Linked DNA regions of Homo sapiens. The protein of the gene in region 1 interacts with the protein of each later gene in a pairwise test. Each region holds a gene or a part of one and is shown in the gene's direction. Other genes may lie near its edges.

Region 1 (14,458 bases):
TGTGAGGGGGAGGCCGCTGTGGGGCATGTGGGGGTGGTGGGGGAGGGGCCAGCGGGATGGGGAGGGGGTCAGTGGAAGGGGGAGAGGCGCACGGGTCCTGCAGACATCCTGGGGTGGAGCCCAGGGGTTTGTGGATGGATTTGATCAAGCAGGAAGGGTGTGGAGTCAGGGAGAACCCCAAGCTGCTGAGTAGCAGAGCCATGGTGGCAGGAGGAATGCCACAGAGGAGCAGGCGGGGCCGGGGTTAGCTGGATGTGGAGAGGCGATGCCTGCCCTGTCCCTGGAGACACCCAGAAAGCTCGTGGGAGAGGCCTGGCCTGCGCCACGCGGGGCCTGTGGGGGGTGGCATTCAGGCGGTGACGGGAAAGTGGGGAAGGCAGAGAGGAGGGAGGCCAAGGAGCAAGTCCCGGCTGCCACAGGTCAGGGCGGATGGATGAGGAGTCAGCAAGGGCCTCCACAAGGGAGTGTCCGGGGTCTTACAGCCAAGTCCAGATGGTGGAGGCCTCTGGACCCAGACCAGAGTGTGGGGGATCCAGCCAGGGGGGCTGGCAGCTTTGCCCTAGAGTGGAGCAGAGAAGTCAGCAGGGCAACCAGAGGGGCTGGGGCCCAGGGTCTGGGGTGGGCACGGGCTTCGAGCCGTGGCGCTCACTGTGCGTGAGCAAGCTGGGGAGCCCGAGAGAGGGGCGCGAGCGGGTGGAGAGACAGCAGGTGGAGGTGAGCACCGCCCTCCAGCCAGCCTTGGATTGCAGGGGTCCCAGGACCTCCCTCTGTGGAGTGGGTTTGCCTCCATGGGACGAGGACACTGGGGCACAGAGAGCCTACTGATTTCCCCAGGGTCACACAGCGTGGCGTTTTGGAGAGGAGTCGGGGAGTTTGGGAACCAGCTGAGTTGGGAGCCAAGGTGGGGAGGTGGGTGACCCTTCCACAGGCCCCACGGTTGAGTGGCCTGGAGGGTACAGTGAGGAGCTTTCCCGGCCAGTCCCAGAGCGGGGAGGCAAGCAGGGCTGGGGCCGCCCACCCGGTCACTTGCACACACAGGGATTCCCGGCAGGTTGAGCGAGTCCCAAGTCAGCTCAGAAAGTGCAACAAGGTGGACCTGGTCTGGGCAGATGTAGATGTAGATCTACGGGAGTCGGCCCCACTCACCCTCGCCTGGCCCAGTGTGCATCACACAACCTGGATGGCAGTGCCACCCTCCCTGGATGGCTGCTGGCTGGCAGCTTGAATGTCACACCAAGGCTGGAGGAAGGCAGCAGAGAAGTTGGCCATCCCTGCCCTTTACCCGCAGGAAGATGAGCCGGAGTCTGGGGGGCCTGGTGGGTGGGGGCAGTAGGTGAGCTCCGCCTGCCCCTCTTGCTGGCCCTGTCGGGGAGGCCCAGCTGTTGCTGACAGCCTCGGCTCAGGTTCCAGTGCAGGACGCCCCCCCACCGGATGCTGCGGAGATGGCCATGCCTTCCTGCCGCCGCCTCTCCAGGGCCCTGGGGCTGCTGGCTGGGGAAACCAGGAGGTGGGGGCCTGGTGTGGGCTGCCCTGCCCAGGGTCGAGAGCACGCCCTTGGGACCCACGAGGTCTGGGCTCTGAGCCCGGCTGTGGCCGCTCTCTGGCCGATGACCCAAGGTGTGTCACAGCCCCGCCCTGAGCCTGGGTCTCTGTGTCTGTGGAGGAGGGATTCTAGGCGGGATGTGAGGCCACCCACGCGGACCACTGTGCATGCTGGGCTGGATACTGGAGACACGTTCTTCCCGGCCTCAGTTTCCCCATTTGTGGCAGCTGAACTGGGCTGATAGGCCTTCGGTGCTGGCTGTGTGGCTTGAGGGCGGCTCAGGAAGGGCCGTGGTTCTTTCCTTTTACAAAAATAAAGTGTGGCGGGTGCCGGTGTGGAAGTGACGTGGCCTGGATGACATTCCCGTCCTGCAGGACCGGAGAGTTCTAGGAAGGGCCCCCCGGGAGTCCCGGCAGGGCCTGGATGGCAGCCTGCTGAGCCTTGGGGTCGTTGCAGGCTCTCTCCCCTGACGGAGGCACCCTCAAGTCAGGCCATGTTCTACCCTGGCCACCTGCCCTCTCCTGGGGGACTCCCAAGACAGGACGTTGGCCGATAGCCTGGGGCAGGGCGAGTCCTGGTGGTTGTGTCCTGGGGGGTGCAGCTGGGGGTGCAGCTGGAGCTCCTGCAGAATCAGGAACTACCCTGGGCAGGGCTGGCCCAGGCCAGCCTGTGGGCCTCAGTAGCCCCATCTGTGAGATGGGTACCTTGTGGGACTTTACTGGGAGCGAGCGAAATGACTGCCTTTGAGGTGGGGGCGAGGGCACGTGCTGTGCCCAGGGCCACATGGCCGAGGCAGAGCCAGGAGTGCTCCCCTGCTGCCCGCTGGCCTACCCAGCCCCTGGTGCCTCCCGGCCCTGGCAGCACCTTGTGAGTCCGAGCCGGCATTCTCATCCCCGGGGTCCCGGCAGGGCCTTCCTTTCCTGGTGCCTGCTCTCGGGGCCCAGCTCACGGGTGAATCCCAAAATAGCTCAGGGAGGAGTGACGGGACAGCTGGGGCTGACCGTCGGCAGCCAGCGGCCGGGAATGCCCGTGACAGTGGGGCTGGCCGGCAGGGCTGCAACCCCTGCCTGGCTGGGGCTGCTCCAGTTCAAAGGCCTGAGGCCGCCCGCCGGCCCTGGGTGTGGCGTGGGTGACTGTGCCTGGCTCCCCTGCCACCCTTTCAGGCACCACAGCTCACTGGGTCTTGCGCCCCTCCTCCTTCCCCCAGGTGCAGCTACGGCTGGCAAGGGAGGTTCTGCGATGAGTGTGTCCCCTACCCCGGCTGCGTGCATGGCAGTTGTGTGGAGCCCTGGCAGTGCAACTGTGAGACCAACTGGGGCGGCCTGCTCTGTGACAAAGGTAGTGGTAGGGGGCGGCAGGCCTAATGCTCTGCCATCGAAGTGTGGGTTGTGGGGGAGCGGGGGGCCGGCTTTTCCCCTGAGCATCCCACCCCTGCCCCCAGACCTGAACTACTGTGGCAGCCACCACCCCTGCACCAACGGAGGCACGTGCATCAACGCCGAGCCTGACCAGTACCGCTGCACCTGCCCTGACGGCTACTCGGGCAGGAACTGTGAGAAGGGTACGTGGGGGGCTGGCCACCCAAATTCTGGCCAGGCAGGGACTGGTTCCCTGGGGAGCCGGTCAGGCCCCATCCCTCTGGCGTCCTGTGTGGTGGGCCCCTGACCCCCAGCTTGGGAACCTGTGGGCTTGGGGAGGAGTGCTTGTGGAAAGCTGGGGGCCTGGCTGCCAGCTCTGCCCCCTCCCCGCGGTTCTACAGCTGAGCACGCCTGCACCTCCAACCCGTGTGCCAACGGGGGCTCTTGCCATGAGGTGCCGTCCGGCTTCGAATGCCACTGCCCATCGGGCTGGAGCGGGCCCACCTGTGCCCTTGGTGAGTGTCTGCACGTGAGTAGGGGACTCCTGCCTAGTATCAGTGGGGGTCTGGGAGTGGGGCAACTCGCTGGGGATGGGGTGCAGTGGTCAAGTCCACACGTGTGGCTGCGGCTGGCTTGGCGAGGACAAATGGCAGGAAGACCCAGGCTTGCAGCGCCACCTGCCCATGGGGACCTTATTCCCACGGCTCACACTGCCAGGGCCCCACCTTTCTCCACCCTCTGCAGACATCGATGAGTGTGCTTCGAACCCGTGTGCGGCCGGTGGCACCTGTGTGGACCAGGTGGACGGCTTTGAGTGCATCTGCCCCGAGCAGTGGGTGGGGGCCACCTGCCAGCTGGGTAAGGGCTCCGAGCGAGTGCATGGGAACGTGGGCCGCGCATGCGGGCTGCGGGGGCTGCTGGGGCTGCGGGGGCTGCTGGGGCTGCTGGGGCTGCTGGGCTGCGGGTGCCAGGTGCCCGTGCTGCAGGGGGCAGGCAGGGCCCGAGCCCCACGGCTCCCACCTTGTCTCTTTCACAGACGCCAATGAGTGTGAAGGGAAGCCATGCCTTAACGCTTTTTCTTGCAAAAACCTGATTGGCGGCTATTACTGTGATTGCATCCCGGGCTGGAAGGGCATCAACTGCCATATCAGTCAGTATGGGGGGTGGGCGCCGGCGGGTGGGCCGAGGCACATGGGACCCCGCCTCTGACCCTGCTCCTCTGCCCCCAGACGTCAACGACTGTCGCGGGCAGTGTCAGCATGGGGGCACCTGCAAGGTGAGGCGGGGCCAGGAGGGTGTGTGGCGTGGGTGCTGCGGGGCCGTCAGGGTGCCTGCGGGACGCTCACCTGGCTGGCCCGCCCAGGACCTGGTGAACGGGTACCAGTGTGTGTGCCCACGGGGCTTCGGAGGCCGGCATTGCGAGCTGGAACGAGACGAGTGTGCCAGCAGCCCCTGCCACAGCGGCGGCCTCTGCGAGGACCTGGCCGACGGCTTCCACTGCCACTGCCCCCAGGGCTTCTCCGGGCCTCTCTGTGAGGTGAGGTCTGCCTGGTCACCCTGCCCCACCTGCTGCTCTGGGAGCTGTAGGGCAGGCCTCGTCCCCTGACCATGGGGCCTGAGTGACCCAGGGGTGCTGCAGGGGAAGTTGTCCCCAAGGCGTCCCAGGCTCAGCTCTCCACTGGGTGCCAGGTGGGCAGGCGGGGCTGTCACAGGTCACCAGGCTTGGCCCCCTGTGGCCATTGCTTGTTGTGATGGGTTTCCTGGTGGCCTGGGCTAGGAGCCCCCGGGCTGCTGGCTGCCCAGGCCTATCTGTCCATCTGTGCACTCCCTCGGGACTGGAGGGCAGGGGGCTCTGGTGGGCAGAGCACATGGGGTAGGGTGGGTGCCTGATGGTGGAGAGGTATACACCTGTCATAGGTGAGTCCTGGGTCGGAGTGGGCATCTCTCTCAGGGCTGATGCTCTCGCCTCCCTCTGACCATCTGTTGGTACTGGACCCCCTCCCCCAACCTCCCCTTCCCCCCTGCCTCCAAAGTAACCTGCCTTCCCCCTTCCCCACCACCCCTACCACCCCCTTCCCCACCTCCCCCTTCCCCACCTCCCCCAACCCTGCCTCCCCCCACCCACCTCACTATCACCCCTCCCCTACCTCCCCCAACCCTGCCTCCCCCCACCCACCTCCCTACCACCCCCTTCCCCACCTCCCCCAACCCTGCCTCCCCCCACCCACCTCCCTACCACCCCCTTCCCCACCTCCCCCAACCCTGCCTCCCCATTACCTGCCTCCCTACCACCCCCTCCCCTTACTTCCCCTTTTTCCCTGCCTCCCCCCACCCACCTCCCTACCACCCTCGGCCGCCCACGATCCTGCCCTGGCCTTGGTGCAGAGGATGGGCCTCCTGTCCAGAGGGCTTCTTGGGGCCCAGGGCAGGGGTCTGACCTCAGGACCTGCAAGCATGGCAGTGGCTGGCCCTGGAAAAGACCCACAGTCTTGGCTCTGAGGGTGGCCAGGCAGTGTGTGAGGGGCTCAGGAGCTGTCCTTCCTGCCAGCAGCAGGGGCCAAGGCCACACTCCTCCCGAGGGACAGTGAGGAAGCTGGGCTGCAGTGGAGGTGGGGGTGGGGGCCCACAGGTATCTGCGTTCAGCTAAGGCCTGGGCAGTCTCAGGTGGGCAGGGGTCTTGGGCTCTGGCTGGCACTGTTAGGCCCAGGGCGGAGGGGCCTGGGGGTCCCCAGGGATCTACCTTCGTATGGACAGAGGCCTGGCCTGTGTTCCCGGCCTGGGCCTGGGCCTAGGCTCTCACAGGCACCCCCCACCCTGCAGGTGGATGTCGACCTTTGTGAGCCAAGCCCCTGCCGGAACGGCGCTCGCTGCTATAACCTGGAGGGTGACTATTACTGCGCCTGCCCTGATGACTTTGGTGGCAAGAACTGCTCCGTGCCCCGCGAGCCGTGCCCTGGCGGGGCCTGCAGAGGTGCTGGGTGCGGCATGGGGTGGTGGGGGAGGTGGTGGGGCAGGGGCGGGCCTGACTCCTGACTGTACTGCCTGCCATAGTGATCGATGGCTGCGGGTCAGACGCGGGGCCTGGGATGCCTGGCACAGCAGCCTCCGGCGTGTGTGGCCCCCATGGACGCTGCGTCAGCCAGCCAGGGGGCAACTTTTCCTGCATCTGTGACAGTGGCTTTACTGGCACCTACTGCCATGAGAGTGAGTGGCCACGAACGGCGGGCTGGTGGTGGGGCTGGGCTGGCCTGAGGCCCTGGCTCACCCCGCTCGCCTCTGCAGACATTGACGACTGCCTGGGCCAGCCCTGCCGCAATGGGGGCACATGCATCGATGAGGTGGACGCCTTCCGCTGCTTCTGCCCCAGCGGCTGGGAGGGCGAGCTCTGCGACACCAGTGAGTGTTCCAGCACCCGCCCACACGGCCTGTGCCTCCACCCCTGTGGGCCCCTTATCACCCTGAGATGGACCGCTGTCTGGGTGCGGCAGGCCCCGTACCCAGAAAGGCCTGGCCAGGGGGTGCTGCCACCATGGGGTGGAGTCCCAGGCTGCCCCCATGCCCGAGGCCAGCTCCCCCGGCCCGACGCTCCTCCCCCGCCCCTCTCTGTCCTCACCTGGCCCAGCTCCAGTGCTTCCTCCCCCGGGAAGCCCTCCCTGAGCGCCGGTGACCCCCCGCCCGCTGACCGGCGTCCTCGCCCCCAGATCCCAACGACTGCCTTCCCGATCCCTGCCACAGCCGCGGCCGCTGCTACGACCTGGTCAATGACTTCTACTGTGCGTGCGACGACGGCTGGAAGGGCAAGACCTGCCACTCACGTGAGTGTCCGCAGGCCCTGGCCGCCTGGGGCTGCCCCCAGGACCCTGGCCCTGGCGGTCTGGGGCCTGCCTGCTGAGCGGCCCATGTGCCAACAGGCGAGTTCCAGTGCGATGCCTACACCTGCAGCAACGGTGGCACCTGCTACGACAGCGGCGACACCTTCCGCTGCGCCTGCCCCCCCGGCTGGAAGGGCAGCACCTGCGCCGTCGGTGAGGAGCCCCCGCTGCCTCTGCGACCGCCGGGCATATGCCCTCCCAGGCACCGCTCCCTCGGGCGCGATGGGCCGAGGGGTCTTTTTTGAGGGCCACACCTGCCACCTGCCCCCTGCCCCCTGCCCCCGGGTCTGTCTGCCCTGTCTGGGTTGGGGGCGCGGTATGGAGACCCAGGGCCAGCCCAGGGCCAGGTGAGACGCTCCCTCCTCCTCCTCTCCTTACAGCCAAGAACAGCAGCTGCCTGCCCAACCCCTGTGTGAATGGTGGCACCTGCGTGGGCAGCGGGGCCTCCTTCTCCTGCATCTGCCGGGACGGCTGGGAGGGTCGTACTTGCACTCACAGTGAGTGTGGGAGGGGTGTGGGCGGGGGCCGCTTTCCTCCACCCAGATGACATCCCTGCCCCCGACTCGCCCCCCAGTCCCTTCTGCCAGCCCCTCCCCCTGCTGCCCCTGCCCCCAGCAAAAGGCACCCTCCTTGATGACCCTCCCCAGCCCCACAGCCTGATCACGCCAAGCCAGCCTGGACAGTGCCTGGCACGCTTGGGGGGTGGGTACTGATCCCCTGCGTTCTCTTCTCCCAAACCAGATACCAACGACTGCAACCCTCTGCCTTGGTGAGTGGCACCCTGGGGGCCACAGCAGGGGTGGGTGGGACTTGGCATACCACGGGGGGCCACCTGATGCCCACCCTCTGCTCTGCAGCTACAATGGTGGCATCTGTGTTGACGGCGTCAACTGGTTCCGCTGCGAGTGTGCACCTGGCTTCGCGGGGCCTGACTGCCGCATCAGTGAGTGGCCAGACAGCCCCAGCCCTGGGAGCCCCTCAGCCCAGCCGCGGTGTCAGGAGTCTGGGGACATCAACGTCCACGTCCCTTGAAGGGCAGTGTGGCCACAACTACTTCCTGCCTCTCTTCTGAGCCTCAGTTTCCCCACATGTCTGTGCCCTGTGGGGTTCCTGCTGTATACCCTGCCAAGTGATTAAGTGGGGAGCCCCAGCCTGGGGGACCAGTCCGGGGCCCAGGGAGCTGTGGGGGTTGGAGCGTGCAGCCTGACGTGGGCTCCTCTGTGGCCGCAGGGCTGTTGTCCCTGGGTGTTGGCCCAGCTGTCTGTCCAGCACCCCTTGGCTGGTCCGACGCAGCAGCTGGGGCTAATCCAGGATGGGACAGGCCCACTGCAGAAGCAGACGGAGGAGGGTGCTGTTGGGCCAGGGTCAGGCTGGGCTCAGGAAGGCCTCAGGCAGGCAGCAGCTTGGGCTCGGGGGCAGGGGCTGCTCCTCATTGTCCTGGGGCTTGCGCCTGTGTGCCACTGGCTCCCCGCTGCCCTAGGCCATGCCGGTCCTGCGGTGGGCGTTGGCCTCACTGCACTGAGCAGCGGTGGCTCTCCCTGCAGACATCGACGAGTGCCAGTCCTCGCCCTGTGCCTACGGGGCCACGTGTGTGGATGAGATCAACGGGTATCGCTGTAGCTGCCCACCCGGCCGAGCCGGCCCCCGGTGCCAGGAAGGTAGGCCCCGTGTGATTGCCCTGGGTTGGGGCGGGTTGGGGGGCATGGGTGACACCCAGCCCCGAGGGCCAGATGCCCACTGCTGACCCTCGAGCCCCTTCTCCCCACAGTGATCGGGTTCGGGAGATCCTGCTGGTCCCGGGGCACTCCGTTCCCACACGGAAGCTCCTGGGTGGAAGACTGCAACAGCTGCCGCTGCCTGGATGGCCGCCGTGACTGCAGCAAGGTGAGGGCAGCCCGTGAGCCGCCCTGCCCTACCCGAGGCTGGTGCACGCTGACCCTGGCCACTCTGTGAGATCAGGAGGCGGGTGCTGGGGTCCGGATGGACTGAGAGCCGTCTGCCCTCAGGGACACCCAGGGAGGCGAGAGCTCAGCCAGGCCCCATGCTTCGATGTGCAGTTGGGAAAACAGGCCTGGTCTGGGTCCTGCCTTGCTCCGCCTGCCCTTTCTGATGTCGAGCTTGGCCTGCCTCCCTGGGAGCCCTGGGTAGGGGGTGGGCTGGGCCCTGGGGCTCACAGACTTGGGCGGTGTCCCTCCTTGGCATGGGGCCCGTGCCTGCCTGTGGGTTCTCATCTGTGTGCCTGCATCTGACCCTCCTGTGCGCCTGCGCCTGACCCTCCTGTGCGTGCCTGCCCAGGTGTGGTGCGGATGGAAGCCTTGTCTGCTGGCCGGCCAGCCCGAGGCCCTGAGCGCCCAGTGCCCACTGGGGCAAAGGTGCCTGGAGAAGGCCCCAGGCCAGTGTCTGCGACCACCCTGTGAGGCCTGGGGGGAGTGCGGCGCAGAAGAGCCACCGAGCACCCCCTGCCTGCCACGCTCCGGCCACCTGGACAATAACTGTGCCCGCCTCACCTTGCATTTCAACCGTGACCACGTGCCCCAGGTGAGGGGCCTGGTGGCATCTGAGCTTGCAGAGGCCACACGCCGGCATCTGCTCGTGGCATGGCGAAAGCCTAGCCCCGCAGGGCAGGGAGGCCCTGGTTGGCTGAGCAGAGTCACTCTTGGTCACAGAGAGTGGCCCTGTGGGGTCAGATGAGAGGGGCATTGGGCCTGGTGCTGGGTGGAGGTGGCAGAGGAGGCTGGGAGAGCAGCCAGCTGGGGGTGCCTGTTTGTCCAGCTGCCCTGAGGGCCTGGACTGACGGCGCCATGGCTGCCTGGCCCCAGCTCTTGGGCTGTAGCTCCGTGGGCAGTTTTGCCCTGGCCTAGGAGCCACCTTTGCCTGCTGTGTGCTTGGAGCTGGGCCCCTGTCTCCCAGGAGGGGCTCAGAACTGGAGGAGACCCACTGTACCCCGCCCTGCCTCTCCTTCCCCCACTGGCCTGCAGGTGGAGCTGGGTCCGCCCTGAGGATGGGCGGGTGGGCACCGTCACTCCTGCCTCCTGGTATAGGGCACAGCCGGGTGGGAAGCTGCCCCCCCAGGCCCTTGGCATCCTTGCTGTGCTCTCCTGGGCGGGCTGTAGGGTGTGTCCCACGTGTACCCACAGCGCCAGTCCAGGGATGTAGGTGTCAGGTTCACGGCCCTGCCCTGCCCACGCACTGCCTGTCTCTGCCCAGGGCACCACGGTGGGCGCCATTTGCTCCGGGATCCGCTCCCTGCCAGCCACAAGGGCTGTGGCACGGGACCGCCTGCTGGTGTTGCTTTGCGACCGGGCGTCCTCGGGGGCCAGTGCTGTGGAGGTGGCCGTGGTGAGTGCCCAGTGGGGAGCAGCACCTGGGTGGGCCCTGGGTCCCGTACTATGCAGGTCCTGGCTATGCTGGACAGAGGCTCTGGCGAGGCTAGTCCTGGTGCGGAAGGACTGCGGGCAGGCCTGTCTCCCTGCGGCCCCTCGCTGTCCATGCCGCAGACCCGTGGAACTGCTCCCTGGGCCTGGCCAGCATGAGGGAGATGCAGGGCTGTGGTGTGGAGCCCGCTTCCCCTGCAGCTGCATCCTCGCCCGGTCCCCTGCTCTGTTTTTGTCTCTGTGTCCCTACGTCACAGGCAGCAGGAGAGTCCGTGGGCTTAGTCTGCCCTGGGAGGCCTGCTTTGGGACTGGCACCTGCCCTGGACCTGGGGGGTGTCAGATGTGAATGGATACCAAGGGGGTCGGGTGAGACTGGGGTGGAGACATGCCCGGAGAGGGGAGGGAATGTTCTGGAACATGGTGGGTGGGTGTGCAGAGCAGTGGGTGTGGCCATGGCACAGTGTGGCTGGTGGAGGCCATGGCCAGGCACAGGAAGGACGTGCAGTGTTTTGGTGCCCTGAGGCCGCAGAGGGGGTGGGGGACATGGATGGGTGCTGCTGGGTGATGGAAGGGCAGTAGGGGCAGGGGAAGATGTAAGAAGTGTGCCAGCACAGGTCAGGGCGCCATCAGGGATGTGGTGGAGGCAGGGGCACAGCCCCGGGTTGCTGTGGCCTCGTGAAGGCACTAGGTTTGTGGTGCCCCTGGGGTGTGGCCCATAGGTGGGGGTGGGGGCTGGGAACTGACAAGAAGGGATGGCCATCACGGAGCAGGTGTCAGCGAATGGGGCCACACACCTCCCCAACTCACTGCCTGGTGGCGAGGTCCCCACCGCAGGACCCCGGGCTCTCCTGTGTGCCCGGACGGGGACACCCTCCACCCCTCCACTTCCCCCCACCCCTCACTGCCTGCTGGTGAGGTCCCCACCGCAGGACCCTGGGCTGTCCCGTGCGCCCGGATGGGGACATCCTCCACCCCTCCCCTTCCCCCCACTGCTCGCTGCCTGGTGGTGAGGTCCCCACACCTCAGGACCCTGGGCTCTCCTGTGTGCCCGGATGGGGACAGCCTCCACCCCTCCACTCCTCCCCCCGCTACTCCCCACTCACTGCCTGGTGGTGAAGTCGCCACTGCAGGACCCCGGGCTCTCGTCTCCCGTGCGCCCACCTTGCTCCAGTGTGGCCAGGGCCTCAGTGTTGGGGGCAGGCTGCTGGGAGCCTGGAGCCCTCGAGCCATCCCCACAATGCCGTTCTTTGCCGCAGTCCTTCAGCCCTGCCAGGGACCTGCCTGACAGCAGCCTGATCCAGGGCGCGGCCCACGCCATCGTGGCCGCCATCACCCAGCGGGGGAACAGCTCACTGCTCCTGGCTGTCACCGAGGTCAAGGTGGAGACGGTTGTTACGGGCGGCTCTTCCACAGGTAAGCGCGGGAGGTGGGCCCCTGGGAAGGCACCAGGCAGGCAACTCAGGCATTGGGCACAGAGCCGGCCGATCCTGCCGATCCTGCCAGCCACCAGGAACACAGAAGTCCCTGGCACCTGCTGCCCCAGCCGCCCAGCCCCACAACCTGACCTTCCCAGCCCCCGTCCTGGGACCCTCCCCACGAGCCAGCAACCGGAGGGTGGGGCCCGGCCGCCTGGCCCGCAGGGCCCTCCCAGGCCTGGGTGTGTGGCTAGTGCCCCGCAGGTGCCCAGGCCTCATTGCCCACCGGCTCTTCTCCCCGGTCCCCAGGTCTGCTGGTGCCTGTGCTGTGTGGTGCCTTCAGCGTGCTGTGGCTGGCGTGCGTGGTCCTGTGCGTGTGGTGGACACGCAAGCGCAGGAAAGAGCGGGAGAGGAGCCGGCTGCCGCGGGAGGAGAGCGCCAACAACCAGTGGGCCCCGCTCAACCCCATCCGCAACCCCATTGAGCGGCCGGGGGGCCACAAGGACGTGCTCTACCAGTGCAAGAACTTCACGCCGCCGCCGCGCAGGGCGGACGAGGCGCTGCCCGGGCCGGCCGGCCACGCGGCCGTCAGGGAGGATGAGGAGGACGAGGATCTGGGCCGCGGTGAGGAGGACTCCCTGGAGGCGGAGAAGTTCCTCTCACACAAATTCACCAAAGATCCTGGCCGCTCGCCGGGGAGGCCGGCCCACTGGGCCTCAGGCCCCAAAGTGGACAACCGCGCGGTCAGGAGCATCAATGAGGCCCGCTACGCCGGCAAGGAGTAGGGGCGGCTGCCAGCTGGGCCGGGACCCAGGGCCCTCGGTGGGAGCCATGCCGTCTGCCGGACCCGGAGGCCGAGGCCATGTGCATAGTTTCTTTATTTTGTGTAAAAAAACCACCAAAAACAAAAACCAAATGTTTATTTTCTACGTTTCTTTAACCTTGTATAAATTATTCAGTAACTGTCAGGCTGAAAACAATGGAGTATTCTCGGATAGTTGCTATTTTTGTAAAGTTTCCGTGCGTGGCACTCGCTGTATGAAAGGAGAGAGCAAAGGGTGTCTGCGTCGTCACCAAATCGTAGCGTTTGTTACCAGAGGTTGTGCACTGTTTACAGAATCTTCCTTTTATTCCTCACTCGGGTTTCTCTGTGGCTCCAGGCCAAAGTGCCGGTGAGACCCATGGCTGTGTTGGTGTGGCCCATGGCTGTTGGTGGGACCCGTGGCTGATGGTGTGGCCTGTGGCTGTCGGTGGGACTCGTGGCTGTCAATGGGACCTGTGGCTGTCGGTGGGACCTACGGTGGTCGGTGGGACCCTGGTTATTGATGTGGCCCTGGCTGCCGGCACGGCCCGTGGCTGTTGACGCACCTGTGGTTGTTAGTGGGGCCTGAGGTCATCGGCGTGGCCCAAGGCTGGCAGGTCAACCTCGCGCTTGCTGGCCAGTCCACCCTGCCTGCCGTCTGTGCTTCCTCCTGCCCAGAACGCCCGCTCCAGCGATCTCTCCACTGTGCTTTCAGAAGTGCCCTTCCTGCTGCGCAGTTCTCCCATCCTGGGACGGCGGCAGTATTGAAGCTCGTGACAAGTGCCTTCACACAGACCCCTCGCAACTGTCCACGCGTGCCGTGGCACCAGGCGCTGCCCACCTGCCGGCCCCGGCCGCCCCTCCTCGTGAAAGTGCATTTTTGTAAATGTGTACATATTAAAGGAAGCACTCTGTATATTTGATTGAATAATGCCACCATTCCGGCCTCCCTTGTTCTTTCGGTGCTGTCCCTTTTGTATTGAGAGTGAGGTTGGGGGAGAGCCACGCCGGCAGAGAGGCTTGGGGCAGTGGGGCGCGTGCTGGGTATTGGCCCACGTGGCTGTGGTGGCTGTAGAGGGCGAGACGGTTCTGTTGAGTCGGGGCCTGCCAGGGCCTCGAATGCGTTGGCATGCCAAGGTGGTGGATGCAGGTTTGGCCAAAACCTTCCTGGGAATGGGGAGGGGGGTGTCTAGGTGCCTGGCACCCGACCCTGACTAAAACAGCTGAAAACAGTTTTATAAAATAGTATAAAATTGCTTACCCACGAATACGTATCAAGGTCTTAAGGAATTAACAGGTCAAAATTTTTATTCATTCATTTATTCCTTTGTTTTGCTTGGTCATTCAGAGGCAAGGTCAGCATTTGATGGAGGCAGGAGAGAAGCAGCCCTTCCACCTGGCCCTGGAGCTGGTTTTGCCCCTCACTGCTTGAGCCAACTGGAACGTGGCATGGTGGCCTCAGGGCTGGGCATGGAAGGCCGACTCCAAGGCTGACTCCGAGCCGCCTGTCAGTGATGTGCAAGTCTTTACCCTGCTGTGAGGGGTAGGAGGTCAACTGAGTCAAGGAGCAAAGCCAAGAACCAGATCTGTACAAAAGAGAAAAAAAAAGTCCTGCTGACAGCCTGGGAGTGAGGCTGCCTTGCACAGGCAGAACAAATGAATAAATGAATGAACGAATAAAAATTTTGACCTGGTAATTCCTTAAGACCCGCTCGTTGCTGCAGAAGTTACTCTGGATGTCTGTTGTTGAGCACTGCTGCTGTGGACTCCAGGAAGCCATGCAAATGAGCTATGGTGTGCACTAGAGGGACAGTCTCCCTCACTCCGGCTGGAGTCCTCCCATCGGCTTCTCCATTGTATTGAGCCAGGTCTGCAGGGACACACAGAGGAGCTGGTAGGAGACCCTGCTTGCCATCAGTTGCTCACAAGCCCAAGGCTTGTGCCCTCAGGGTGGGGGCAAGGGTTAAACCCACCTCCTGCCGTGGCCCCAAGGGGTTGGCCAGGCAGTTCAGGCAGAAGGGCAGCCACTGAGGAGTCGTGTACACCATGACTCGTGTGGACCTGAAGCCCATGTTCCCACCACCAGGTTGGCCA
Region 2 (14,458 bases), on another chromosome or scaffold:
CACCTTGGTCTCCCAAAATGCTGGTATTACAGGCATGAGCCACCACACCCGGCCCATTTGGCAGATATTTAGTGCACTCCTTCAATGTGCCAGAGACCCGTCCAAGCAGGGGAGGACCCAGCAGCTTACACTTTAGATGGATGGGGAGGCCGCCACTGAGGAGGTAAGGCAGTGTCTCATGGATCCCTGGGGGGAAGGTGCTCCAGGCAGAAGGACTGGCAAAGGCCCTGACAGAGGGGTGAACACAGGACACCCGGGGCATTGAGCTGACTCACCTTCTGAGTGAGGGCACGCCACGCAGGTTCAGAGCAGAGGAGGAACCTGACCCAACTCACATTTGAACAGGTTCCCTCCGGCCACTGAGGGGATGGGAGACCGAAAGGAGGCCAGTGTGGGGGCTGCTGATATCATCTGGGTGGAGACAGGGCGGCAGCTTAGATCTAGGGGTAGGCTCGACGTGGTGGCTCACGCCTGTAATCTCAGCACTTTGGGAGGCCAAGGTGGGTGGATTACTTGAGGTCAGGATGACCAGCCTGGCCAATGTGGTGAAACCCCCGTCTCTACTAAAAATACAAAATTTAGCCAGACGTGGTGGTGGGTACTGTAGTCCCAGCTACTAGGGAGGATGAGGCAGAAGAATCGCTTGAACCTGGGAGGCGGAGGTTGCAGTGAGCCGAGATCACGCCACTGCACTACAGCCTGGGTGACAGAGCAAGACTCTGTCTCAAAAATTAAATTAAATTAAATTAACTGGACATGGTGGCATATGCCTGTGGTCCCAGCTACTCAGGAGGCAGAGATGAGAGTATTGCTTGAAGCCAGGAGTTTGAGGCTGCAGTGAGTCATGATCGCACCACTGCACTCCAGCCTGGGCGACAGAACGAGATCCTAGCTCAAAACAACAGAAAGAAAAAGAAAAAAACATTTTTTTTAAAGCTGAGAAGGGGCTGGGCGCAGTGGCTTACGCCTGTAATCCCAGCACTTTGGGAGGCCAAGGTGGGTGGATCACGAGGTCAGGAGTTCAAGACCAGCCTGGCCAACATGGTGAAACCCCATCTCTACCAAAAATACAAAAAGTAGCCGGGTGTCATGGTGGGCGCCTGTAACCCCAGCTACTCCGGAGGCTGAGGCAGGAGAATCACTTGAACCTGGGAGACAGAGGTTGCAGTGAGCCAAGATCGCGCCACTGAACTCCAGCCTGGATGACAGAGCAAGACGCTGTCTCAAAAAAAAAAAAAGCTGAGGCCGGGCACGCTGGCTCACGCCTGTAATAGCAGCACTTTGGGAGGCCGAGGCGGGCAGATCATGAGGTCAAGAAATCGAGACCATCCTGGGTAACACGGTGAAACCCCTTCTCTACTAAAAATACAAAAAATTAGCTGGGTGTGGTGGCACGCACCTGTAGTCCCTGCTACTCAGAAGGCTGAGGCAGGAGAATTGCTTGAACCCGAGAGGCAGAGGTTGCAGCGAGCCGAGCTTGTGCCACTGCACTCCAGCCTGGGTGACAGAGTGAGACTTCATCTGAAAAAAAAAAAAAAAAAAAGCCGAGAAGGCTGGACATGGTGGCTCACACCTGTAATCTCAGCATTTTGTTGAGGCCAGGCACAGTGGTTCACGCCTGTAATCTGAGCACGCTGGGAGGCCGAGGTGGGTGGATCATTTGAGGTCAGGAGTTCGAGATCAGCCTGGCCAACGTGGCAAAACCCTGTCTCTACTAAAAATACAAAAATTAGCCGGGTGTCGTGGCGTGTGCCTGTAATCCCAGCACTTTGGGAGGCTGAAGCGGGTGGATCACTTGAGGTCAGGAGTTCAAGACCAGCCTGGTCAACATGGCAAAACCCTGTCTCTACTAAAAATACAAAAATTAGCCAGGTGTGGTGGCGGGTACCTGTAATCCCAGTTACTAGGGAGGCTGAGGCAGAAGAATCACTTGAACCCGGGAGGCAGAGATTGCAGTGAGCCGAGATCACATCACTGCACTTTAGCCTGGGCGACAGAGCAAGACTCCATCTCAAAAATAAAAATAAAAATAAAAAATACCGAGAAATTCCCCCAAAGACCTAGCTCAGGGCTCACTCTCCATCATTAGGGGGAAAGAAGAAGAGGAGGCCAGGGAGGCGGGCAGAGACCAGGGCAGTGTGGGCTCCTGGAGGCAGCTTCTATGTTTAAAAGGGCGGCTTCAGGAGGAAGGGGACCAACCGTGTCAGGCACTGCCCAGAGACCAAGGATGACAAGGATCACAAGTGACTGGTCATCATGGTCACTTTGACCAGTGCAGCTTTGGCGGAGGGGTCAGGGGTCCCCTGTCTGGAGTGCATTTCGGAGGCCCGAAAGGGGATGTGATGTGATTTGGCAGCTGATTAAGGACAGCAGGGCAGAGAGACAGGCGCACAATTGCCAGAAGAAACGGGGACCTGAGGCTCACGCCTGTAATCCCAGCACTTTGGGAGGCTGAGGAAGGTGGATCACTTGAGGCCAGGAATTTGAGACCAGCCTGGCCAACATGGCGAAACCCCATCTCCACTAAAAATACAAAAATTAGCCAGGCATGGTGGTGCACACCTATAATCCCAACAACTTGGGAAGCTGAGCACAAGAATTACTTGAACCTGGGAGGCAGAGGTTGCAGTGAGCCGAGATCAAACCATTGCACTCCAGCCTGGGGGACACAGCAAGACTCTGTCTCAAAAAAAAAAAAAAAAAGAAAGAAAGAAAGAAAAGAAAAAACAAATGGGACCAGAAAAAAGGAGTGGGTGGGAGAGGAGCAGGTGGATAGTCCCACACATGGGAAGGTGCTGAGCCCAGCTGAAACCACTAGTAAGTCAGGAGGAGGGAAGACTGAGCCTCGAGACATATGTGCCTTCCAGGGTCTTGAGGGAAAGAAGGGAGGAAGAGCCAAGGCCACGTGGCAAGACTCAAGGAGGAAGTGGCAGGGAAGGTGGGGGACTGGAGGGGTGGAGGACAGATATTGTTAATGCCAGGAACAAAGTGAAGGTAAAGAGAGCACAAGGAAGTTGGGAGCAGTGGCTCACACCTGTAATCCCAGCACTTTGGGAAGCCAAGGCAGGAGGATCACTTGAGGCCAGGAGTTCAAGATCAGCCTGGCCAACACAGAGAGACCCCATCTCTACAGAAAATTTTAAAATTAGCCAGGTGTGGTGATGTGCACCTGTAGTCCCAACTACTTGGGAGGCTGGAGTGGGAGGATCACTGGGGACTGGGATGTCAAGGCTGCAGTGAGCTATATGATGACCACAGACATAGCAGCTTAAGACACACCTATTTGTCAGCTCACAGTCCTGTAGGTCAGAAGTCCAAAAAGCTGGACTGGGCTGTCTGCTGAGGGTCTCACGAGGCTGAAATCAAGGTGTCAGCCAAGCTGGGCTCCTCTCTGGAGGATCTGGGGGAGAATCTACTTCCAGGTTCATTCAGGTGTTGGCAGAATTGAAGTCCTTGTGGCTGTAGGACTGAGGTCTTGTTTTATCACTGGCTTTTTAGCTTTTTGCTCCTGGAAGTGCATGTAATCCTCCATGTGCTCTCATTCTCTCTGACTTCCCCATCTGCCACCCAGCAGAGACAATACTGTGCTTTTCAAGGGCTCACCTGATTGGGGCAGGCCTACCCTGATCATCTCTGTATTTTGAGGTCAGCTGACTTGATATTTTTTTTTTTTCTTGAGACAGAATTTCACTCTTGTTGCCAAGGCTGGAGTATAATAGTGTGATCTCAGTTCACTGCAATCTCCGCCTCCCAGGTTCAAGCAATTCTCCTGCCTCAGCCTCCTGAGTAGCTGAGATTACAGGTGCCCACCACCACGCCCAGCTAAATTTTTTTGTATTTTTAGTAGAGATGGGGTTTCACAAGGTTGGCCAGGCTGGTTTTGAACTCCTGACCTCAGGTGATCCACCCGCCTCAGCCTCCCAAAGTGCTGGGATTACAGGAGTGAGCCACCATGCCCAGCATTTTCTTTCTTTTTTTTTTTTTTTTTGAAACGGAGTCTTGTTCTGTCACCCAGGCTGGAGTGCAGTGGCGCAATCTCGGCTCACTGCAACCTCCATCTCCCGGGTTCAAGTGATTCTGCCTCAGCCTCCCAAGTAGGTGGGACTACAGATGCGTGCCACCACGCCCGGATAATTTTTTGTATTTTTAGTAGAAACGGGGTTTCACCATGATAGCAGGATGGTCTCGATCTCCCAACCTCGTGATCTGCCCACCTCGGCCTCCCAAAGTGCTGGGATTACAGGCGTGAGCCACCGCACCGGGCCTCCGGTATTTTAATTATATCTGCAAAGTCCCTTCATAGCCTGGGCAATGGTCCCTAGATTAGTGTTTGAATAAACAGAATCTTGGCAGAAGGGCAGCTTTTGAATTCTGCCTACCACAGTTCCTTCGTTTGTACAACGGGTCTAACAACACCCCCACTCTTTGTATGTAATGCCATCGTAACTCAGCTTCTGTGGCACTCTGAGAATCTGTGTTCAGGGGTCCCAAAACCACCCACAGGTTCAGTGATTCCCTGGAAGAACTCAGAACTGAGAAAAGTTTTTATACTCACAGTTTATTACAGTGAAAGAATATAGATTAAAATCTGCAAAGGGCCGGGCACGGTGGCTCACGCCTGTAATCCCAGCACTTTGGGAGGGCGAGGTAGGCAGATCACTTGAGGTCACGAGTTCAAGACCAGCCTGACCAACATGGTGAAACCCTGTCTCTACTAAAAATACAAAAATTAGCCAGGCGTGGTGGCTGGCGCCAGTAATCCCAGCTACTTGGAAGGCTAAGGTAGGAGAATCACTTGAGCCCAGGAGGCAGAGGTTGCAGTGAGCCGAGATCCCGCCACTTCACTCCAGGCTGGACAGAGTGAGACTCTATTAGAAAAAAAAAAAAAAAAAAAATCTGCAAAGGGCCTGGCATGGTGGCTTACGCCTGTAATCCTGGCACTTTGGGAGGGCAAGGCGGGCAGATCACTTGAGGTCACAAGTTTGAGACCAGCCTGGCCAACATGGCGAAACCCCGTCTCTACCAAAAATACAAAAATTAGGCATGGTGCCAGACCCCTGTAATCCCAACTACTCAGGAGGCTGAGGCAGGAGAATCGCTTGACCCTGGGAGGCAGAGGTTGCAGTGAGCTGAGACTGTGCCATTGCACTCCAGCCTGTGTGACAAGATCAAAACTCTGTCCAAAAAGAAAATTAGCCAGGTGTGGTGGCATACACCTGTAGTCCCAGCTACTCCAGAGGCTGAGGCACAAGAATCCTTTCAACCCAGGAGATAGAGCTACATTAAGCCAAGATCACGCCACTGCACTCCAGCCTGGGCAACAGAGCAAGACTCTGTCTCAAACAAACAAACAAATTCCAAAAACATAAAATGCGCAAAGGAAGGGCATCTGGGGAAGGGTCCAGGAGACACCAGGTGCGAGCTTCCAGTTGTCTGCCTCCAGTGGAGTTGCACAGACAACGCTTAATTCTCCCTGCAGTGTGTGACAACACGCACCGTGTACTGCCAACCAGGGAAGCTCACCTGAGCCTTGGTGCCCCAGGGTTTTTATTGAGGGTTTGTCATATAGGCAGGGCTGACGTAGTTACTCAGTCTCCAGTCCCTCCAGAGGTCAAACTGATACCACGTGGCCCAAGACCCCAACGATAAATCGCATTGTTAGAATGAACTGTATGGAAAATTATCCAGGCGTGGCGGCGGGCGGCTGTAATCCCAGCTACTGGGGAAGCTGAGGCAGGAGAATCACTTGAAACTAGGAGGCCGAGGTTGCAGTGAGCCAAGATCGCACCATTGCACTCCAGCCTGGGCAATAGAGCAAAAACACCATCTCAAAATAAATAAATAAATAGAATGAACTGTATTGGCCGGGTACAGTGACTCATGCCTATAATCCCAGCACTTTGGGAGGCTGAGGCTGGAGGATCGTTTGAGGCCAGGAGTTCGAGACCAGCCTAGGCAACATAGTGAGACCCTATCTCTTTTTTTTAAAAAAAAAAAAAAAAAAAAAAAAGAATGAACTATACAGTGTGGCCCAAGGCCCCCTGCTAAATAAAGACACTCTTCAGGCAGGACATTTCAAAGGCTTAGAGATCACCTCCCAGGAGCAAGTCAATGGGCCAGTCCTTTCATCGGAATGTGCAGGGTTTGGACAACACTAGCCTACTGAGCTAGTCCTTACTGCTTAGCACCCCAGCTTCTATGACACCTACTGGATTCCCTTCCTGAGGGTTTCAAAGACTCCTGGAGATGTCTCTGAATTTGGCTGTCACAGTTGTTACTTGTACCCCAGATGCCACTCAGTTCCCTGAAGACAATGATCCCCCAGATTTCTCAGCCAGGAGCCCCTCCACCTCTTGTCCTCAGTGGGTGCCAGGCCTCATCCTGGAGTTCCACAGCTGAGCCAGGCTCTCGGGGTTACGGAAGGTCAAGAGGGTGTGGGGACAACAATGGAAGAGTGATAACAGTGGCAGCCCTTTGAGCAGATGCGGGTCTCAGGAGAACATAACGCGCTTTCTTTTCATAGTTCAGCTCACTTTCTAAGCACACTGAGCTTCCTTTCCAGCAGGCTAAGGGGCTGCAAAGGGGGTACAGATTAACCTCATTCTTCAGATTCTCAAAAATGGTGTCACCATTCATTGCTGGAGACTGGGAGAAAGGGGGCAAGTCCATCTCATTCTCTCTGTCTCTGTCTCTCTCTCTCTCTTCCCTGTCCATCTGTTTCTCTCTCCCACCCACCCCTCTGTTCTCTCTGCCCAGAAGAATCTCTATTTTGGTTTTGGTTTTGTTTGTTTTGTATTGTTTTGAGACGGAGTCTCGTTCTGTCGCCCAGGCTGGAGTGCAGTGGCGCAGTCTCAACTCACCACTGCAGCCTCCACCTCCCAGGTTCAAGCGATTCTCATGCCTCAGCCTCCCGAGTAGTTGGGATTACAGGCGCACGCCACCACGCCCAGCTAATTTTTGCATTTTTACTAGAGACTGGTTTCACCATGTTGACCAGGCTGGACCCTATCCTCTTTCAAGCCCCCCACCCCAGGCATTGAGGGCAGAGCCAACTACCTGCCTGAACCAATTAGCATATTAAACGTAAACCCAGTTAGCATATCCAAATAGCAGCCCACAGTGACATTCTGACTGTCAGAATGTGGATTGCTTGAGCCCAGGAGCTCAAGGCTTCGGTGAACAAAGATTGTGCCACAGCCTGGGCAACAGAGTAAGTCCCTGTCGATCGATAGATAGATGATAGATAGATAGATAGATAGATAGATAGATAGATAGATAGATAGATAGATAAATTTTTAAAAAAAATAATAGGCCAGGCACAGTGGCTCATGCCTGTAATCCCAGCACTTTGGGAGGCCGAGGCAGGCAGATCACCTGAGGTCAGGAGTTCGAGACCAGCCTGGCCAACATGGTGAAACCCTGTCTCTACAAAAATATAAAAATAGCCAGGCAGATGTCTGTAATCCCAGCTACTCAGGAGGCTGAGGTAGGAGAATCGCTTGAACTCTGAAGGTGGAGGTTGCAGTGAGCCGAGATCATGCCATTGCACTCCAGCCTGAGTGACAGAGCGAGACTCCATCTCAAAAATAATAACAATAATAAAAATAATAATAAATGCTCTGGCCCCAAAGTGGCACATTACATGGTGCACACCCCATTAGCAAGGACTCATCACATGGCCCTGCCAACCACAGGAGGAACCCCCCCATGTACTCAGGTAGGAGGGCCAGGAAACACCGTCAGAGAGCTTTAATGACTCACCCCATGACTGGGGTGAGGGACGAGGGACTGGCTGCAGGCCAAGGGCATGTCCGTGGCAGTGGAGACTTGGGAAAGGGGAAAAGACCTCCTCTGAGCCACGCACAGTGGCTTTCATCTGTAATTCCAGCACTTTGGGAGGCTGAGGTGGGAGGATCTTGAGCCCAGGAGGTCGAGACTGCAGTGAGCTATGTTTGTGCCACGGCACTCTAGCCTGGGCGACAGAGCAAAACCCTGTCTCAAAAATCAAAATAAAACCAAAACCAAAACTTCCTCTGTTGGGGATGCTCCAGGGCGTCCCAGCCTTGAACAGATGGGTCACTGCAGTAATAATCCTATGGCAGACACTGTCCCAAGGCTGCACGCACGTTACTTTGATCATCAAACAACCAGGTGATAGCCAGGCATGGTGGTGCGTGCCTGTAGTCCCAGCTACTCAGGAAGCTGAAGCGGGAGAATCTCTTGAACCTGGGAGGCGGAGGTAACAGTGAGTCGAGATCACATGACTGCACTTCAGCCTGGGAACAGAGAGAGACTCTGTCAAAAAAAAAAAAAAAACAGGCCAGACGCGGTGGCTCACGCATGTAATCGCCAGCACTTTGGGAGGCTGAGGAGGGTGGATCACCTGAGGTCAGGAGTTTGAGACCAGCCTGGCCAACATGGTGAAACCCCGTCTCTACTAAAAATACAAAATTAGTTGGGCGTGGTGGTGCACACCTGTAATCCCAGCTACTCGGGAGGCTGAGGCAGGAGAATCGCTTGAACCCAGGAGGCAGAGGTTGCAGTGAGCTGAGATTGCACCATTGCACTCCAGCCTGGGCAACAAGAGTGAAACTCCATCTCAAAAAAAAAACAAAAAAAAAACAACCAGCCAGGCGCGGTGGCTTACGCCTGTAATCCCAGCACTTTGGGAGGCCGAGGCGTGTGGATCACCCGAGGTTAGGAGTTCGAGACCAGCTTGACCAACATGGTGAAACTCCGTCTCTACTAAAAATACAAAAAATTAGCCAGGCATGGTGGTGCATGTCTGTAATCCCAGCTACTCGGGAAGCTGAGACAGGAGAATTGCTTGAACCCAGGAGTCGGAGGTTGCAGTGAGCCAAGCTCGTGCCACTGCACTCCAGCCTGGGCAACAGAGCAAGACTCTGTCTAAAAAAAAAAAAAAAACACACACACACACACACAACAACCAGGTGAGGCAAGTACTCTTGCTATCATCTCCATTTCACAGATGGAGAAACTGAGTTACTAAGTGGTAGAGTAACCTAAGTCATGCAGCCGATAACTGGGAGACAAGATTGGGACCCAGGTCGCCCAGCTGTTCTCCATGCCGGGCTGTCTCCTGCACAGCTGCTCCATGGTCCTGGCCCCACCGAAAACCAGAGCCCACAAGGTCATTCCAGCAGCACTGCCCAGGGCCTCCTCTGGGCCAGGCCGTTGGGGAACTGGAGACCCCATGGGGACCAGAAAGATTGGGGTCTCGTTCTCGGGAGCCTATGGCTTTGCAGCTGACCCAGAGTCCAGCTGACACCCAGGCAGGCAGTCAGGGTCTGTCTACACCCCCATTGCAGGAGGAGCCGACAAACAGCAGATGGACGCTGAGCTGCGGAAGGAGATGATGGCGATTTGGCCCAATCTGTCCCAGAAGACGCTAGACCTGCTGGTCACACCTCACAAGTGTAAGAGCTGAGCCCAGCCCTGGGATCCAATCCACCAGGACAGATGGAGGGGGAGGGAAAGGGGAGGCCTGGGGAGAGTGTTGGCCTGGGCTGGTATACACAGGGACCCAGGACAAGGGCCCCAAAGAGGCCTGCCCTTGGTGAGCTCACCGTGTGTGTGCCCCCAGCCACGGACCTCACCGTGGGGAAGATCTACGCAGCCATGATGATCATGGAGTACTACCGGCAGAGCAAGGCCAAGAAGCTGCAGGCCATGCGCGAGGAGCAGGTGCGCTGTTCGCCGCTCTGGGGACATCTGGGCTGGGGACAGTGGCTTGCATGTCACCACGGGAACCAACTGGAATATGAGGGTGGCTGAGCCCCAGGGCAGGTCCCTGAAAAGTAGGGGCTGTGCACAGCAGCTCACACCTGCAATCTCAGTGCTTTGAGAGGCCAGGGCAGAGGGATCGTTTGAGACCAGGATGAGACCACCCTGGGCAACACAGTGAGACTCCATCTCTACAAAATAAAACATTAGCCAGGCATGGTGGTGCACACCTGTAGTCCCAGCTATTTAGGAGGCCAAGATGGGAGGATCACTTGAGGCCAGGAGTGGGAGACCAGTCTGGGCAACATAGAAAGACCCATATCTCTACAAAAAAAAAATAAAATTAGCTGCATGTGGCGCCATGCACCTGTGGTCCCAGCTACTTGGGAGGCTGAGGCAGGAGAATCACTTGAACCTGGGAGGTGGAGGTTGCAGCAAGCCAAGATCAAGCCACTGCACTCCAGCCCGGGTGATAAGAGCAGGACTCTATCTCAAAAAAAAAAAAAAAAAAAAAAAAAAAAGTTCTTGCCAAGGACACATCATGTGGATTCATTCTTCATTCAGCTGCTCCACCAACACTTATTGAGTATTACTGTGTGCAGGGCGCTGTTCTCAGTCCTCGGGGATGCACCCATGGGGAAAATAGGCCAGAATCCCTGCCCTCAGGGAGCAGACATTCCAAGTGGGGAAATGCCAATGGTAGCAAATGACTGAATCGTGCAACATCCAGCAAAGAGAAAGAAAGTGTCGTGGGGGAAAGTGGAGAAGAATCCAGAAGATAGGAGTATCCAGGGGAGGAGGGGATGCGGTGGGAAATGGGTAGTTGGGGAGCCTCCCTGAGAAAGTGACATGTGAGCAAAGGCTTGAAGGAAAAGGGGAGAGGGAGTGAGCTAAGCAATACCTGGAAGGGTGTTCCAGGCAGAGGAAACAGCCAGTGCAAAGGCTCTGAGGCTGGACCGTGCCTGGGTTGTTTGGGTAACAGCAAAGAGGCCAGTGTGGTGGAAAAGAGCAGGGAGGAGACAAGGGCAAGGAGGTGACAGGGCAGATCCTTCAGGGCCATGGGAGCTGCAGGAAGGACTCTGGCTTTTTCCCCAAGCAAGTGGGAGCCATGGAGGGTTCTAAGCAAAGGAGGGATAGGACCTGACTCAAGTGCTCATGGGCGCCCTCTGGTGGCTCTTGTGGAACAGTGGGGTTGAAGGTAGGAGCGGGAGACCTGGGAGAAGGTGCCTGCAGTGAGAGATGAGGACGTGGGACCAGGCTGGGGCTATGACTTGGGTGGAGGAGTGAGAAGTGGTCCAGTTCTGCGTGGAATTGGAAGGGTCTAGATGGATGAGACCTGAGAGAGTGTGTGTGTGTGTGTGTGTGTATACTGGGGATGTCGCAATGCCTTCTGGGTACCACCGTCCCACCACCCCACCCTTGTCCACACACTGCTCTCTGCCCCATTCCCCAGGACCGGACACCCCTCATGTTCCAGCGCATGGAGCCCCCGTCCCCAACGCAGGAAGGGGGACCTGGCCAGAACGCCCTCCCCTCCACCCAGCTGGACCCAGGAGGAGCCCTGTGAGTGTCACCCCTGCCAGGGAGGTGGAGTGTGGGGGTGCCGTGGTCCCCACGTTCTGGAAGCTGCCCAAGCGCCCACTGCTACCCCGGCCTCTGTCCCCCATGCAGGATGGCTCACGAAAGCGGCCTCAAGGAGAGCCCGTCCTGGGTGACCCAGCGTGCCCAGGAGATGTTCCAGAAGACGGGCACATGGAGTCCGGAACAAGGCCCCCCTACCGACATGCCCAACAGCCAGCCTAACTCTCAGGTGCCTCTGTCCCCCAACTCCCCAATGGCTCCCAGGGCCCGGGTGGTTCAGGTGGAAGGGATCTGGGCCCCCCACACACACACACCTGCAGCTCCCTCCCTCTGCAGACACCAGGGATCTGGAGGTCAGGCCCCAGAGCTCATCTGGCTTTGCCATCTGCTCCGCAGTCCGTGGAGATGCGAGAGATGGGCAGAGATGGCTACTCCGACAGCGAGCACTACCTCCCCATGGAAGGCCAGGGCCGGGCTGCCTCCATGCCCCGCCTCCCTGCAGAGAACCAGGTGAGGGCTTTCACCACTGCCCTGGGGCTGGACCCCTCACTCTGCACTGGGTAGGGCCAGGCCCCCCCACAAGCAGCCCAGTGCATCCCCTCCCTGCCGGACTCAGGCCTGGGTAGGGACTCCTTCAGTCTCTGAAGCAGTCTGCAGGCCCCACCCACCACCTGGTCACACCTGGAGCACCTGCAGACCCTCCTCCCTCACAGAGGACAGAGAGGAAAGTGCTCCCCCTGGGGCAGAGGGCAGTGGCCACTGCAAAATGGTCTCTGGCTGCCCTGGTTGGAGGCTGCAGACAGGGGAGGTTGTGGAAGATTTGTGGGTGCAGCAGGGTTCAACAGGGCCAGCTGAGACCTGCCACGAAGATCACCCCTACACAAACACACACACACATGCTCAACATACATGCACACACATGTGCAGCTGTGCGCCTACTCAGATGCTTGCATACACACACGTGTGTGCACGTGGGCATATACACACTGCACATGTACTCACACATGCACACATGTACGTGCACACGTGTCTGCATATGGGAACTTGGCAGGTCCTAGGATACAGTAGCAGAGTCTGGGGTGGGTCTGGGGGCAGCTGGGCTCGTATTTTCTGTCTGGTCTCTGTGGGAGTCATTGGGGGGCACAGGGGTGTGTGCTTGATGTGTGTCTGTGTGTGGCCGCTTCACCCAGCTGCCAGGCCCACCTGCAGGTGATCCCGTTGCCTTGGACTCATGGGACAGAGGGCCCAGAGGCATAGCTGGCTGCCCACCCGGCCTGAACAGCGGGGGCCCATGCACGCAGCCCGCCTCTGGAGGAGAACAGGGCATGGCTGTGAGAGCCTGGCCCGGGTGCGTGGCATGTGTGGCTGTGGCGAGCTTTCCGTGTGCCGTGTGTGGCGTCTGCACGGGGCAGGAGGCTGTGCTGTGCCTGGCTGGACCAGGGTCACCTGAGGGCCTGGCCTCTGGCTGCTGGGAACGTGGGTTGGGGAGCACCCAGCGTGCATGCTGCTGCTCCCTCAGGACCGAGCTGCTGGGCCCCAGGAGAGGGTTGGGACAAGCCCAGCTGACGGCCACCACATGGAAGCTTTGAGCATCGGCCGGAGCCAGGGGTTGGGGTGTGCATCGCATGAGGCAGAGCCCAGGGCCAGGGGCTCGAGGCTGCGCCGTCCTGTCTTTCGGTCCCATGCCTCTGCCATTTGTCTGTCTGCATCTCCTGTCTGTCTCCTCTGTACCCATGGGAATAGAGGACGCCCAGCCCCGGGGGCCTGGGACACCCACCCGCCAGGACTTTAACTTTTCTTTTCCTCCCTGCCTTCTCCCTCCGATTTCTCTTGATGCCAGTGCCACTCCCCTCCTTGGCTTCTTCTCCATGCACCACCTCCTCACTCTCCCTCTTGCCTTTTATATTTATTTTCTTCTTTCTGTTTTTTCTGTGTGCACCATCCCATGGGGCTGTGACAGAGGAGAAGGGGCCGGCCACGTGGGAATAACCTCAGTGTATGTACCGCGCCTGCCCAGCGCCCAGCAGGGCTCCGGCCCCCTCTTCCTCCCCACCCCCCCTCCAGGGAGTCCCGTCATCTCTCACCGTCCCCGGACCCCACCCTTTCTTTGGCAATCGCACCCTCTCCCCTCCATGGAGCCCAATCCTTGTGTGTGGTGTCCTGTGTGTGCCCCTCACCCATAAGCCCTGGTGGGCGGGGCCATCCCCATCCTCACCCCTACCCCCTTTTCTTCAGGGCCCCCCACGCCGGAGGACACTGGCTCTCCAAGAGCCTGGCCCACTCTGCACCTCTTTCTGGGGGGCTTCTTCTCCTGACACCACCACCAACCCCTGGTCCTGCAGCTCCTACCTGGAGCAGGGCCACCAGCGCTCAGCTGGGCTGGACCCTGGGAGGCGGGCGTCTGCCCCATCTCCCTCCTTCCCTCCTCTGCCTGCTGCAGAGAAACCTGTGTGTCAGGGCTTGACCCAGGGATGAAGCACCAGGGAAAAGAGTGGGCCCCCAGAGCCTCCAGTGCCTGGGTATCCCCCACCCCCACCCAGAGCTCCCTAGCTTGGGCCTCACCAGAAGGACTCAGACTTGTGGGGGCAGCGAGCACAGCCCCGTTAGCCGGGAGGACCCAAAGCTGCCATGCCGGGCACCTGGTCCTGAGCCCATAGGTCAGCCAGCCACAGTCGGAGGCTTCTCACCCTCCCAGGAGAGCAAGCTGGGGCAGGGATGAGTGCGGCAGTCCAGGGCTCCCAGGTTTGCACCCTGGATGTGGAGAGGGCTTCCCTCTGGCCAGCCTGAGCCTGCCCAACTGTGGCTGGGCCCCCAGGACTGGAGAGTGAGGATCAGATCTTTCTGGTCAGAACCCAGGATGGGCTCAAAAGGAGCAGTCCTGTCTCTGAGGGACAGAGGAATCCTCAGGCTCCACCCTCAGAGGCCTGGCCACACCCAGAGCCCTGATTGATCAGGGGGAGCCAAGGCCCCATGGCATCCCCTGGCCCCTGCCCCAGGATGGTCACACCGCAGTCACCGAAGGCCACCACCAGGCTGCCACAATGGGGCAGGAAGGACCGGGACCACTTGGTGCTAGCTGCTGACCCCAGCCCACCGGCCTGTCCCCTCCCCCAGACCATCTCAGACACCAGCC

The links.
Region 2: the proteins of JAG2 (region 1) and CACNA1A interact in a two-hybrid assay, tested with the Homo sapiens proteins (one study listed by BioGRID and IntAct).

The regions. Positions count from the first base shown.
Region 1 is NC_000014.9:105,140,584-105,155,041, reverse strand, and holds the end of JAG2 (protein jagged-2 isoform a precursor), read left to right. Parts: intron 1-2,750; coding exon 2,751-2,881; intron 2,882-2,984; coding exon 2,985-3,104; intron 3,105-3,302; coding exon 3,303-3,416; intron 3,417-3,645; coding exon 3,646-3,759; intron 3,760-3,937; coding exon 3,938-4,051; intron 4,052-4,130; coding exon 4,131-4,177; exon of another isoform or gene 4,178-4,264; coding exon 4,265-4,438; intron 4,439-5,721; coding exon 5,722-5,872; intron 5,873-5,952; coding exon 5,953-6,105; intron 6,106-6,183; coding exon 6,184-6,297; intron 6,298-6,602; coding exon 6,603-6,716; intron 6,717-6,812; coding exon 6,813-6,926; intron 6,927-7,153; coding exon 7,154-7,270; intron 7,271-7,514; coding exon 7,515-7,542; intron 7,543-7,630; coding exon 7,631-7,716; intron 7,717-8,317; coding exon 8,318-8,431; intron 8,432-8,541; coding exon 8,542-8,657; intron 8,658-9,068; coding exon 9,069-9,311; intron 9,312-9,980; coding exon 9,981-10,112; intron 10,113-11,403; coding exon 11,404-11,560; and 4 more. UniProt on the Homo sapiens protein: Putative Notch ligand involved in the mediation of Notch signaling. Involved in limb development.
Region 2 is NC_000019.10:13,209,480-13,223,937, reverse strand, and holds part of CACNA1A (voltage-dependent P/Q-type calcium channel subunit alpha-1A), read left to right. Parts: intron 1-9,329; coding exon 9,330-9,437; intron 9,438-9,604; coding exon 9,605-9,705; intron 9,706-11,197; coding exon 11,198-11,307; intron 11,308-11,415; coding exon 11,416-11,554; intron 11,555-11,721; coding exon 11,722-11,835; intron 11,836-13,285; coding exon 13,286-13,321; intron 13,322-14,439; coding exon 14,440-14,458.